Linked DNA regions of Homo sapiens. The protein of the gene in region 1 purifies or fractionates together with the protein of each later gene. This does not show direct contact. Each region holds a gene or a part of one and is shown in the gene's direction. Other genes may lie near its edges.

Evidence for each region.
Region 2: the proteins of KIF24 (region 1) and WDR47 purify together in Homo sapiens (affinity purification with mass spectrometry; one large-scale study listed by BioGRID and IntAct). This does not show direct contact.
Region 3: the proteins of KIF24 (region 1) and PYGB purify together in Homo sapiens (affinity purification with mass spectrometry; one large-scale study listed by BioGRID and IntAct). This does not show direct contact.
Region 4: the proteins of KIF24 (region 1) and DOT1L purify together in Homo sapiens (affinity purification with mass spectrometry; one large-scale study listed by BioGRID and IntAct). This does not show direct contact.

Annotation. Positions count from the first base shown.
Region 1 is NC_000009.12:34,319,269-34,322,836, reverse strand, and holds part of KIF24 (kinesin-like protein KIF24), read left to right. Parts: intron 1-3,213; exon of another isoform or gene 3,214-3,329; coding exon of another isoform or gene 3,330-3,397; intron 3,398-3,568. UniProt on the Homo sapiens protein: Microtubule-dependent motor protein that acts as a negative regulator of ciliogenesis by mediating recruitment of CCP110 to mother centriole in cycling cells, leading to restrict nucleation of cilia at centrioles.
Region 2 is NC_000001.11:109,032,096-109,035,663, reverse strand, and holds part of WDR47 (WD repeat-containing protein 47), read left to right. Parts: intron 1-3,568.
Region 3 is NC_000020.11:25,293,058-25,295,839, forward strand, and holds part of PYGB (glycogen phosphorylase, brain form), read left to right. Parts: intron 1-1,100; coding exon 1,101-1,235; intron 1,236-1,685; exon of another isoform or gene 1,686-1,915; coding exon of another isoform or gene 1,916-1,973; intron 1,974-2,546; coding exon 2,547-2,613; intron 2,614-2,782. UniProt on the Homo sapiens protein: Glycogen phosphorylase that regulates glycogen mobilization. Phosphorylase is an important allosteric enzyme in carbohydrate metabolism. Enzymes from different sources differ in their regulatory mechanisms and in their natural substrates.
Region 4 is NC_000019.10:2,226,418-2,229,985, forward strand, and holds part of DOT1L (histone-lysine N-methyltransferase, H3 lysine-79 specific), read left to right. Parts: coding exon 1-710; intron 711-1,319; coding exon of another isoform or gene 1,320-1,930; exon of another isoform or gene 1,931-3,367; coding exon 3,368-3,375; 3' UTR 3,376-3,568. UniProt on the Homo sapiens protein: Histone methyltransferase. Methylates 'Lys-79' of histone H3. Nucleosomes are preferred as substrate compared to free histones. Binds to DNA.

The DNA of each region.
Region 1 (3,568 bases):
TTGCCCAGGCTGGAGTGCAGTGGCGCAATCTTGGCTCACTGCAACCTCCGCCTCCCAGGCTCAAGCAGTACCCCGCAATATCAGCCTCCCAAGTAGCTGTGACTAAAGGCATACATCACCACACCCAGCCAATTTTTATATTTTTTGTAGAGATGGAGTTTCACCATGTCGTCCAGGCTGGTCTCAAACTCCTGGGCTTAAGGGATCCAACCACCTTGGCCTCCCCAAGTGCTGTGATTATAGGCATGAGCCACAGTGCCTGGCCTTGTATCAGTTTCTAATAGTCCAGCGGGCCCAGTGACTTTGTTAGCAACTTCTTTAAAAGTGATTATTATTAGGCTGGGTGCAGTGGCTCATGCCTGTCCTAGCACTTTAGGAGGCCAAGGCAGGAGGATTACTTGAACTCAGGAGTTTGAGACCAGCCTGGGCAACATTGAGACCTCATCTCTTAAAAAAAAAAGTGATCATTATTAGTGTTTGTCTAGGGCTAGATGGGTTGGGGGGAAATTGGGAGTGACTACCACTGGGTACTGGGTTTCTTAATGTAAATGAATAAAGTTGGTTGCTATAAAGGGACTAGGAGCAGGCAGGACCATGGGGTGTATTAGAAGAGTATATGCCCTTCTAAAGGGGACAGCCACTACTCTGTTTTGGTCTACTACTTCCTTATCTAATTGCAGGCCCGATATAACTACATCTTTTAATTTTCAGGAAAAGCAGGAACTGGGTATTTTTAATTGCTCCTAATTTTTTAAACAGTACAACAAATTAAAAAAAAATTTAAACACTTTGCAAGCCAGACTGCAAAATATGAAGATAATCCTTCATGGACCAAATATTATAGGCTAGATCAGCTACAGATTAGATTATCTCTGTTGACCTGGCTAGCTGTAGGACTCCTTTTAAAAAAATCTTACAAAAATATAATGTAGGACAGGCACAGTGGCTCATGCCTGTAATCCCAACACTTTGGGGGCTGAGGCAAGAGGATCGCTTGAGCCCAGGAGTTCCAGACCAGCCTGGGCAACATAGGGAGACCTCATCTCTACAAAAAATAAAAAAATTAGTCAGGTTTGGTGGCATGCACCTGTAGTCCCAGCTACTTGGGAGACTGAAGCAGGAGGATTGGTTGAGCCCAGGAGTTTGTGACTACAGTGAGCCGTGATTGCACCACTGTACTCCAGCCTGGGCGACAGAGTGAGACGCTTTCTCTAAAAAAAAAAAAAAAAAAAAGAAGAAGTATGTATGTATGTATAGCTTTTTTTTTTTTTTTAATGCTATCGGTAGATCACTGTGCCTGTTTTGTTCCAGACACTTAGTGGGTGCGTTACAGAACCTGTCTCCTGCAAATGCGTAATCAGTACACTTGTAGAGAGTACTTTAACATATCTAATTTTACTGTCAATGCCTGTATACATTATTTCAATTTTAAACTTGAAGAAGCAGAGACTCATAGATGTTAAATAATTTGACCATGTATCACACCTGGTTCTTAGCAGAGACTGACTGAGTCCTCGGTTTTTTTTTGCCTCCTAATCTAGTAATCTGCTATACTAGTTACTACTGCGCAAACACTTTGGTAGTCTACTGACAGATATTTGAAATAAAAATCTTATTTAACATCTTGAAATAGAAAAAATAAACCATGTAGGTATTTTGCTCCCTGTTCAATTCCATCTCCCTCCCTACAGAATAAGAATGTGTTTGGTGGCAGTGGTAGTTTAAGGGCCTATGTTTATTGGATGTCTCTGATGTGTTATACCAGTGCTTTAGTGTTAGTTACCTTCTGAATCTAGTGACATGTCAATAATTATGTTAATCTATTTCTAAGAAGGATGGAGGGAGGTCTTACAATAAAATACGTAACTACAAAGAAAACAGTGAATAAAAATAAAAGCACACATTTGAACAATGCAGATATAGCTAAGTACATGGAGAAGGGTCATTATCCTGGTAAGCCTGTCTAAAGAGATCTAGAGCAAAAATCCTGGGGTACAGGTAAAATAAAGGTCATTTCAGTAACATTTTGGCAACCTGAATTCAAACATACTTAAATTTGTGGAAAGAGAAAAATTAGTTTAGGTCCTCCCCTCTCCCCTCCTTCCCAAGGGAGATCTGTAGCTATTTGTAGGTTATAGCCTTTTTCTTTTTTTCCTTTTTTTTTTTTTTTTTTTTTTTGAGAAGGAGTTTGATTCTTGTCACCCAGGCTGAAGTGCAGTGGTGCAATCTTGGCTCACTGCAACCTCCGCCTCCTGGGTTCAAGAGATTCTCCTGCCTCGGCCTCCCGAGTAGCTGGGATTACAGGTGCCCGCCACCATGCCCAGCTAATTTTTGTATTTTTAGTAGAGATGGGGTTTCGCCATGTTGGCCAGGCTGGTCTCGAACCCCTGATCTCAGGTGATCCGCTTGCCTCTGCTTCCCAAAGTGCTGGGATTACAGGCACGAGCCACCCTGCCTGGCTGGTTATAGCCTATTTCTTTTCTTTTTCTTTTTTTTTTTTTTTTGTTGGAACATTTTATTGAAAAGAAAAACTGTATAAATAAGTTCTTGGTTTGATAGTAACAAAGGCTTATGTTCCCCCTTCCCTCCCCATCTTTGAAGAACTAAAAAAGAAACAAAAAGTTCATCCCCATGACGCCATTCTTGACCAGAGTCTGCCCAGAAGCCTGTCCTGTGAGCTCTTTCTCGATCTGCCTCAATGGGGCCAGGTCATTCTGGGGATGCCTGGTCCCAGGGGCTGCAGCACCTAGTTTTGTAGTTGGGAGAGACTGGGATAGAGCTGGGGAGGTGGCTGAGGTGGTTTAGTGTCAGGAGAAGAGGGCTGGCTGACCCCCCTAGCTCCATTTGGTCTCACAGGTGAGAAGGTACTTGGCTATAAATATGAACACTGATTGAGGCAGGCTTGATCTGGGACTTTGAGGGCAGGCAGGATGATTATGGCCCAGGTACCACAGGATGTGGAGTTTCTGGGCTCAGCATCATGGTATCTGGGGCCCACGTCCAAGTGGAGTAAATTCTAGCTGGGAAGGGCCGTTCAAGCACACGGGAACCCTGGTTTGTTTGTCCACCCCCACCCATGGAGTATCCAAGCTGGTACCTCACCTCCCCCGAATCCCAGTAGCACCCATGTGTCTCAGAAGCCTTTGGCTGCCTCCTGCCATCCTGTGTGCACCCTGAGGCCCTAAAACTCGTCTTGCATCTTGTCAACCTTAGGCCGGACCAGGTGCCCAGTGAACAGCAGGGAGCCGCTCTGGGTGTCCCACACCAGGAAGATGAAGGGGTGGTCGGAGTAGAACAGCTTGGGGCTGCGCAGCTCCTTGCTCCCATAGATGTCCTGGTCAAAGGAGTTGCCGTCTGTGTCCAACTCAAAGGCGGTGGCGTGGAACACGCTGGTCAGGTACAGGTCCTTCTTGTGTGGCATGCGTGACAAGTTTGCCTTGTTCTTGTCAATGGCCTCAGTCAGGCCAAGCCTAGCCAGGAGTTTCTGCAGGTCATGGGAACTTCCACCACCCGCTTGGGCAAGGAGATGGCGACAGGCTTCTGCTTCTTCCCCATCCAGATCTTCAGC
Region 2 (3,568 bases), on another chromosome or scaffold:
TAGCTGGGTGTGGTGGTGGGCGCCTGTAATCCCAGCTACTCGGGAGGCCAAGGCAGGAGAATCACTAGAGCCCAGGAGGCAGAGATTGCAATGAGCCAAGATTGCGCCACTGCACTCCAGCCTGGGCGACAGAGTAAGACTCCGTCTCAAAAAAAAAAAAAAAATTTAAAAATTGTATTCATATGAGAAATGCATGTATTAACATACAAGTAATGCATGAATATATATTGGTTGTTAACTCTTCAGATAAACTGCAAAGAGTAAAAAATAAAAAAGTCTCCTTCAACCCTTTTCTTCTCCTAGATCCCTGCCCTCCATCCCAATCCCATGCCTTTCTTCAGAGATAATCACACTGAACAGTTTGGCATGCAACATTCCAGACCTTGTGTGTGTGGGGTTTTTTTTTTTTTTTTTTTCTGAGACAGGGTCTTACTCTTTTGCCCAGGCTGGAGTGCAGTAGTGCAATGTTGGCTCACTGCAGCCTCAACCACCCAGACTCAAACAATTCTCCCACCTCAGCCTCCTGAGTAGCTGGGACCTCAGGCCTGCACCACCACGCCTGGCTAATTGTTTTTTTTTTTTGGAGAGACAGGGTTTCGCCATGTTGCCTTGAACTCCTGAGCTCAAGCTATCCTCCGATCTCAGCCTCCCAAGTGCTGGGGTTATAGGCATGAGCCACTGTGCCCGGTCTCAGACCTTTGTATATTTATTTAGACACAGAGATATTATGCCTCTCTCCTTTTAAATAAATGGGCCTGTTTATATTCATTCATTCAACAAATATTTATTGATAGCTGTACTATTCTGTGATGCACTTTTCCTTTTTAGGATATATAGATATACGTCACTGTGTTAGTATTCTATAGCAACAGTCCTCAGCCCTTTTGGCACCAGGTACTGGTTGGTTTACTGTCTTCCTAGAAGAAAATTTTTCCACAGACCAGGGGTGAGGTGGAAACCATTCTACCTCAGATCAACAGGCATTAGATTCACATAAGGAGACTGCAGTTTAGATCCCTCATATGTAGGGTCCGTGCTCCTATGAGAATCTAATGCCACTGCTGATCTAACAGGAGCGGGACTCAGACAGTAATGCTCCCTTGTCTGCAGCTCACCTCCTGCTGTGCAGCTCAGTTCCTAACAGGCTGTGGATCAGTATTGGTCTGTGTCCTGGGGGTTGGGGACCCCTGTTTTATAGTATGAATTTACCATAATTTATTTACCAATTCTGCTATTAAGGACAGTTCAGTTTATTTCTAATTTTTCTCTATTACAAATAAATTTTCAGGGAACATTTTTTATTTGCAAGTATTTTTGCAGGCTAGGTTTCTATAAGAATTGGAATTGGGTAGTCTACATTTAAGTTTATTTATTTGAGATGGAGTTTCACTTTTGTTGCCTAGGCCAGAGGGCAATGGCGTGATCCCAGCTCACTGCAACCTCCGCCTCCTGGGTTCAGGTGATTCTACTGCCTCAGCCTCCCAAGTAGCTGGGATTCCAGGCATGTGCCACGACGCCTGGCTAATTTTGTATTTTTAGTAGAGATGGGGTTTCACCATGTTGGTCAGGCTGATCTCAAACTCCTGACCTCAGGTGATCCACCCACTTCGGCCTCCCAAAATACTGGGATTACTGGCATGAGCCATCATGCTTCACCAACATTTTTGTAGGTAAAAATTTCATGCTGTCAAATTCTCTCAAAAAGTCAGTCCCAGTTTACATTCTTCTTTTACTTTTATTTTTTTGACACAGAGTCTCACTCTGTTGCCAGGCTGGAGTGCAGTGGCACGGATCTCGGCTCACTGCAACCTCCGACTCCCTGGTTCAAGCAATTCTCCTGCCTCAGCCTCCTGAGTAGCTGGGATTACAGGCATGTGCCATCACGTCCAGCTAATTTTTGTGTTTTTAGTAGAGACAGGGTTTTACCATGTTGGCCAGAATGGTCTCCATCTCCTGACCTTGTGATCTGCCCGCCTTGGCCTCCCAGAGTGCTGGGATTACAGGCATGAGCCACCACATCTGGTCCCCAGTTTACATTCTTAACAACAGTATATGAAGGCATTTGCCCACACTCTTGCCAAAACTAGATATTATCGGGTCTTCTTTTTTCTTTTTCAAAACTGGTAGGCCGTAAATGGGTAACTCATTTTACTGTGTGTGGAAGTGAGCATGTTGGTACCTTGTTATAAAACTATTATTGAGGTTGAGCATCTTTTCACAAATATATTGGTATTCATAGTTCTTTTGTGAATTGTCTATATTTTTTGCTCATTTTTCGTCTGGAATTTTGAGGGTATTGATTTGAAGATGCTATTTATATGCTCCAGATAATAACCATTTAGCTTTTTTTTGTTTTTGTTTTTCCTTTTGAGGCAGAGTCTCATTCTGTCGCCCAAGCTGGAGTGTAGTGGCGTGATCTCGACTCACTGCCACCTCTGCCCCCCTGGGTTCAAGTGATTCTCCTGCCTCAGCCTCCCGAGTACCTGGGATTACAGGTGCCTGCCACTGTGCCCAGCTAATTTTTGTATTTTTAGTAGAGACGGGGTTTCACCATCTTGGCCAGGCTGGTCTTGAACTCCTGACCTCATGATCCACCTGCCTTGGCCTCCCAATGTGCTGGGATTACAGGTGTGAGCCACTGCGCCCAGCCCCATTTAACTCTTTATGTGTGTTTTACTTAGTCCTACTTTGTGCCTTGTCTTTTAACATAATTGTTTGTGGCAAGTTTCTGTTGAATGGAAGATTTACGTTTTGTAATTTTTTTTTTTGGACAGAGTGTCACTCTGTCACCCAGGCTGGAGTGCAGTGGTGCAATCTCAGCTCACTGCAACCTCCACCTCCCGGGTTCAAGCAATATTCCTGCCTCAGCCTCCTGAATAGCTGGGATTATAGGCACATGCCACCATGCCTGGTTAATTTATGTATTTTTAGTAGAGACAGGGTTTTGCCACGTTGGCCAGGCTGGTCTTGAACTCCTGACCTCAAGTGATCCGCCCACCTGGCCTCCCAAAGTGCTGGGATTACAGGTGTGAGCCACCATGCCTGGTCTACATTTTACATTTTTAGTGTCAAAGTTGACAATTTTTTTTCTTTACCTTTTCTGCATTACATGACTTAATTGAGCAGCTTGAGTAAGAAAATCTTTTTTTTTTTTTTTTGAGACAGTCTCGCTCTGTCGCCCAAGCTGGAGTGCAGTGCTGCGATCTCAGCTCACTGCAAGCTCCACCTCCCGGGTTCATGCCATTCTCCTGCCTCAGCCTCCCGAGTAGCTGGGACTACAGGCGCCCGTCACCACGCCTGGCTAATCTTCTGTATTTTTAGTAGAGACGGGGTTTCACCGTGTTAGCCAGGATGGTCTCGATCTGACCTCGAGATCCACCCGCCTCCGCCTCCCAAAGTGCTGGGATTACAGGCATGAGCCACTGCGCCTGGCCAGAAAATCGTTTTTATCATGTGAATTGTTAGTACTTCAGTAATTTTAAACATACTTGTTTAAAAATTTCTGGGTTTGAATATGGAAAGAACACACATACCTTAGTCCTTAGTCTCATAAAGAAAGATTGAGGCC
Region 3 (2,782 bases), on another chromosome or scaffold:
CTAAGTTGTAACTGTTAAAATTGTTTAAAAATAGTATTTTGGAAACATTTTAAATGTGTAGGCCAGGGTCGGGGGGGGTGGGGGAGTGGGGGGGATGGGGGGGTTGGGGGGTGGCAGAGGGGAGGAGGGAATCCTGAAGACAGCACCCAGAGCTTCATCCACCTTATCCCCGCGCCCCTCCGTTGGCTGCACTGAGCTCAGAGCACTGGCCCTCCTGCAGCCCACACTCCATTCCAACTCCACCGGGGTTCTGTTACTGTCTTTCCCATCCCAGGATCCCATCAGGGCACTCCACTGTGTGTGGCCGTCAGGTCTCCCCAGTGTCATTTGGTCTGTGACAGCTTCTCAGTTTTTCCTTGTTCTTCATGATCTGGACGTCATGAGGAATCCAGCACGGGCCTGATTCCAAGCGATAATTACAAAGAAAAGGCAGTGTTGCCTGATTGCCTTGAAGCACTGGGGAGCCTGTGAGGCCTTAAGTAGGGTCAGGTGAAACCACACATGCCATCTGAAGTCAGAGCTGTGCCTTGCTGGCCCGAGCACAGAGGCCTGTGCTCCCTTTCTGCGCCCTCACACAGCTTCTTCTGCCCGGGCCCCGTCCTGGGATGCCCATGTCTGCCCGTCCGTCCCTCTCCCACTTAGCTCTGCCTTGTCCTGTCTGGTCTTGCTTGCGTTTTTCCTTTTCCATCTTCGAGGTCCCAGCCAAGGTGCTCCATTTCACTTCCTGCCCCTCCGGCCGTCTGTTTTTCAAAAGCTCTGCCCAGGATTTCACAGTGAGCCAAGTTCTGAGTGGCCCTCTCCACTAGGAATGTGGCATCAGCCACTATGTCCTAGCAGATCTGCTAGTGATGACATTTCTTTAACAGTCAAAGGAGCAGGTGGGATTGGCTTTAGACTGACTTCACATCTCTGCTCGAGCAGGTCCCTGCTCAAGGGCCTCGTAACCACCCATGGCCACTGGCTGCTGCCCTGGACCGTGCAGGCCTTGAGCTCCCAGGGCCATCCTGGGGCAGGGGCTGTGCCAGGCACCAACATGGCTTGTTCTCCAAGGTGGCCCACCTGGGGCGCTGGCTGCTGACTCCTGGCCCATCGCCTCACAGGTACAATGCCAGGGAGTACTACGACCACCTGCCCGAGCTGAAGCAGGCCGTGGACCAGATCAGCAGTGGCTTTTTTTCTCCCAAGGAGCCAGACTGCTTCAAGGACATCGTGAACATGCTGATGCACCATGACAGGTGGGACCGACTTCCCTGGTTGGGTGGCTGGGAGGGAGGGAGGGAGGGAGGGGTCCTCTTCGTGGGTTGGATATTCCACCTTGTTTGGAGAGCAAAACCCGTGCTTTCAGGACGTCTTCTCCACTGTGCCCATGAGACCTTACTGGGCAGAGCCTTAGACCCCAGCTGGGAGTTTGCGATGGCCTCTGGCAATGCCAGGGGGCCCTGGGCAGCGAGACACAGCAGCACAGTCCAGCCCCCAGGCCTTGTGGACCAATGTGCTGAGCAGGAGGGGGTGTCCTCTGCTGGTTGGAGGTCCCAGGGGCAGCCGTGTCCCAGCAGGCCAGTAGAGGGAGCATGGGCCCAAAACTCCCTGGGGTGGGGTAGGGGGCGCACAAGGGCTGCGGAACCGCGGCAGGCGTCAGTGCCAGTGACAGGCAGTGGTGAAAATGGATTTCACTTGCAACGATGTGACATTATAATGTAGTTAGTGTTTTATTTCAGTGCAGTTAGCACATGGTATGGTTTATCTAGAGTTACAGACTTTGTAAGGTTTGCAGCTCAGGGCAGTTCTTCACCGTTGGCAAAAGTTGAATCCGGCGAGGGCTGGGAATTCACCTGCCCTCCACTTTCAGCTGCCTTTGGGTTAGTTTTAGTTTTGTCTGCTGCTCTTCGATGACCGTGTCACCTGTTGGCTTCAGTCACACCAGCTCTGACCACATGCTGGGATCTGGGCTGGAACCTGGGCCCTGCTGAGGTCTGTGATAAAGGAAGTGCTTTTAAAATTGTGAACTCTGCATTTCGTGAAGTGTGCTTCTGACTCGATAGTGAACAGAAATGCATTTGTAGATTCATAAATCTGGCATTTTTGTTCAGCACATCAGGAACTGCAAGTCAGTATTTCCTGTGTAGGCAAATCCCAGTTAGACTTAAGACGGCAAATGGAGATGCCGTTCCCCAGCAAGTGCCCCCTGCCCTGAGGCGGCGCCATGGGCTCTCCACTGTCTGCCCAGGAGGCCTCTCCCATGTGCAGCTCTAACTGCCCTGCGTGTGGAAGACACGTTTTAAATGCCAGTTTATTTAAAGGAGTGTTGGGTTGAAATAAGGTTTTTCTAAAATATTGTCCCAGGACATAAGTGTTGCTCACAGAGAAGCCCTGTGGCCAAATGGGCCTGGTGCAGCCTGGCTCTGACCAGCTGCGTGGGTGGGCCCCTTCGCTCCAGACAGGACCAGGTGGATGGTGCCTGGCCTCCTGCCCTGGGACTCTCCCCTCGGGACAGTGTGGGCAGGGCTCCCTGCTGCCCTGGCCCAGCCTCCTTTCTCCCATTCCAGGTTCAAGGTGTTTGCAGACTATGAAGCCTACATGCAGTGCCAGGCACAGGTGGACCAGCTGTACCGGGTGAGGCTCCTGGGTCCAGAGGCTAGGGGAGCAGCTGGGTGGGTCCATGTAGACGTGTTGGGTCAGATTGTTTATTTCCCAAGCTGAGTAGATTCTTGGCCTGGGCCAGAGGGGTTTGTGATTCTGATCTGTCATCAGTCGGCTGTGCCTGCCTTTAGGGAAGCTGTCA
Region 4 (3,568 bases), on another chromosome or scaffold:
CCTGTCGGGGGCTGACGGACTCAGCCCGGGCACCAACCCTGCCAACGGCTGCACCTTCGGCGGGGGCCTGGCCGCGGACCTGAGTTTACACAGCTTCAGTGATGGTGCTTCTCTTCCCCACAAGGGCCCCGAGGCGGCCGGCCTGAGCTCCCCGCTGAGCTTCCCCTCGCAGCGCGGCAAGGAGGGCTCGGACGCCAACCCTTTCCTGAGCAAGAGGCAGCTGGACGGCCTGGCTGGGCTGAAGGGCGAGGGCAGCCGCGGCAAGGAGGCAGGGGAGGGCGGCCTACCGCTGTGCGGGCCCACGGACAAGACCCCACTGCTGAGCGGCAAGGCCGCCAAGGCCCGGGACCGCGAGGTCGACCTCAAGAATGGCCACAACCTCTTCATCTCTGCGGCGGCCGTGCCTCCCGGAAGCCTCCTCAGCGGCCCCGGCCTGGCCCCGGCGGCGTCCTCCGCAGGCGGCGCGGCGTCCTCCGCCCAGACGCACCGGTCCTTCCTGGGCCCCTTCCCGCCGGGACCGCAGTTCGCGCTCGGCCCCATGTCCCTGCAGGCCAACCTCGGCTCCGTGGCCGGCTCCTCCGTGCTGCAGTCGCTGTTCAGCTCTGTGCCGGCCGCCGCAGGCCTGGTGCACGTGTCGTCCGCTGCCACCAGACTGACCAACTCGCACGCCATGGGCAGCTTTTCCGGGGTGGCAGGCGGCACAGTTGGAGGTAGGCAGGGCGGCCGTCCGTCCGCCCCCCGCCCCGGCCCCCGCCGGAGGCCCCTTCCTTTGCAGGTTCCCTTCCGCACTCTCTTGCAGCAGGAGCTGAGCTGCAGGTCCCCTGGTGCCGGCCGGCCCCCGCCATCCGTGCACGGTGGCGAACTCCAGTCCTGTGGGGAGAGGGCTCACGCTGAGTCCGTGTGTCTTGGGTTCTCTGGTTGTAACCGCGTCCCTCTTGTTTTCAGAAGGCCACCGTGCGCAGGGCCACCAGAGCATTACTTTCTCCCGTGGAGGTCACCTGCTAGGTGTGGCCGCCCGGGCTCTGGCAAGGCTCTGGGAGCTGGTGTTGGGTAAGAGCGAGTCCCCGCAGTGCCTGCCCAGACAGGGCGGAGAGGAGCCGCCGGGGGGAGCGGCCTGGCCCTGGGGCTGCTGCGGGGCGGGGGGCCGGAGGGCGGAGGGCGGGCCACCACGAGCCTGGCCGAGCCGCTGCTTGTGCTTGGTGCCCGCACACGCCTGGCGGCGCCGTTTCGCTTCCCTTTTTGTGAGCCTGCGGCTGCTGCTCTGCGCTTGCCTGGATGCTGCCGCTTGTTGAAGCTGCGTTTTTCTCTCCTATTTGCAGGTGTCTTTAACCACGCGGTGCCCTCCGCCTCTGCTCATCCGTTTGGAGCCCGTGTCGGCCGCGGGGCTGCATGTGGCAGCGCCACACTGGGCCCGAGCCCGCTGCAGGCGGCGGCCAGCGCCTCGGCCTCTTCCTTTCAGGCCCCGGCCTCGGTTGAGACCCGGCCGCCCCCTCCGCCTCCGCCTCCGCCTCCCCCGCTGCCCCCGCCTGCGCACCTGGGCCGGTCCCCCGCGGGGCCGCCCGTCCTCCACGCCCCCCCTCCACCTAACGCCGCCTTGCCTCCTCCCCCAACGCTGCTGGCCTCTAACCCTGAGCCCGCGCTTCTGCAGAGCCTCGCGTCCCTCCCGCCTAACCAAGCTTTCTTGCCCCCCACCTCTGCTGCCTCTCTGCCGCCTGCTAACGCCTCTTTGTCTATCAAGCTCACCTCCCTCCCGCACAAGGGCGCCCGCCCCTCCTTCACGGTGCACCACCAGCCCCTGCCCCGGCTGGCCCTGGCCCAGGCCGCGCCCGGGATCCCACAGGCCAGCGCCACGGGGCCGTCCGCGGTGTGGGTGTCCCTCGGCATGCCGCCTCCCTATGCCGCGCACCTTTCGGGGGTTAAGCCGCGATAAAGACCTTGCTTAGCTAGCAGTGCGTATTGTGTAAGGTAAGGCCAGAGCCCTGCGCGGTGGCTCACTCCAGACACTGAACTGTCCTTCCTTTGGCAGAGAAGACGGCCACAGGGCTCGGCAGAAGTTCCGGGGGTCCTGAGGAGGGAAGAGGGAGAGAGCCAGGGAGACCAGGGAGATGGTCGCGAGAGGAGGGACTACAGGACGGGCACCAGCCATGGAGTGGCCTGAGTGTGTTGGGTTCCAGCTGCCCGCAGCTGGGTTCCTGCGGTGACGCCGCAGGACTGAGGCCAGCCCTGGGGGCAGCTGTGCCAGCCCCTGTGGGCGAGGCTCACGGGGTGCCAGGCCAGGGGGCTGGGAGCTCTAGCTCCTAGAGCAGTCTCCAGGGCTCCATCCGCACCAGGCCCAGGTCACTCATGACGGGTGGCGTGGCTTGGTGCTGTTCCCCAGGCGCCCAGCATGTAGCAGGCACGGTGCCGGCTGCAGAGGTCCTGGAGAGCCAGGGTGGCTGGCTGGATGCCTCTGGTCGGGGCTGTCTGGCCAGTAGCCTCGGATGCCCTCATAGGGAGCCAGTGAAGCCCCAAGTGCCCTGCCTGCCTGGGGGCTGATGGGTTCCCGGCGGGGTCGAGAGGCAAGCTCTGTGCCCTGCGTGTTGAGGCCCCCTTGCTGGACACGGCTGATGGCCACACTGCCCTGTGGTCATGGCCCACAGCCGAGGGGCTTTCAGCTGCTCAGATGTCAGCACCAAGCTGGGCAGGTTAGTGTAGACGGTGCCCACCTTTGAGACCAGAAGGAAGTTGGAAGCAGGAGTGATTTTGATGATGTGAGGCCTTCAGGGAATGTCCTGTTCACTCCTCCCCCAAGAGGCTGTGGAGACTGTGGCCGCTGACCCCTGAGGGCAGTTGGCCACCCGTGCCCTCCAGGGACATGGCGTGCCTGGCGGCGTAGTGCAAAGGTGCCCTCTGCTTGCCCCTGGCCTTCTGCCTCAGGGGCCCCTGGGACACAGGCCTTCCTGGGCGAGTCCAAAGCCCACCGGGCAAGGAGAGGAGGACTGGGAGCCAGGAGCCAAGGCGGAGGCTGTGGCCAGGGCTGGTCAGCCTGGCGGGTCAATGCGGGCACCTGCGGGCTGGACAAGCTATGCTGGGTCTCTTAGGAGATGAGCTGCAGGTAGGGTGGCTTTAGCTGGACTCGGCTGTGTGTCTCCTTTGGAGGAAGGCTGGAGCTTGGCCGGCGTGTCCAGGTGTCAGGCTCCCTGGTCTGTCACGGGGCACGCCCGTCGTCTGTTGTGGTTAGAGGAGCTGGCACTATGCCTGTCATGGTGCTGGCCCCAGGTGGCGTGTGTGCTCGTGGGAGGCCTCGGTCCCCAGCCTGGGTGAGTGTTGGGCTCCCCCAGGCGCGATGGTAACCTCAGGCCGCTCTTCCCGCTGTGCCCTTCTGCAGGTAACTAGGATTTCTACCTCAACCGCGAGACCTATGCAAGGACGGTGTGGACCAACTCGCGCCCGCGGCATGGTGCCCGCCGGCCTGCCGGGCTCCCACCCCTGGACGGCAGAGGCAAGGACGGACGGGAGCTCCACTGTGAATCGGCGGCACGCGCCGCAGGAGGCTGGGACTGGTCCAGTTTGTACTGTCGATAGTTTT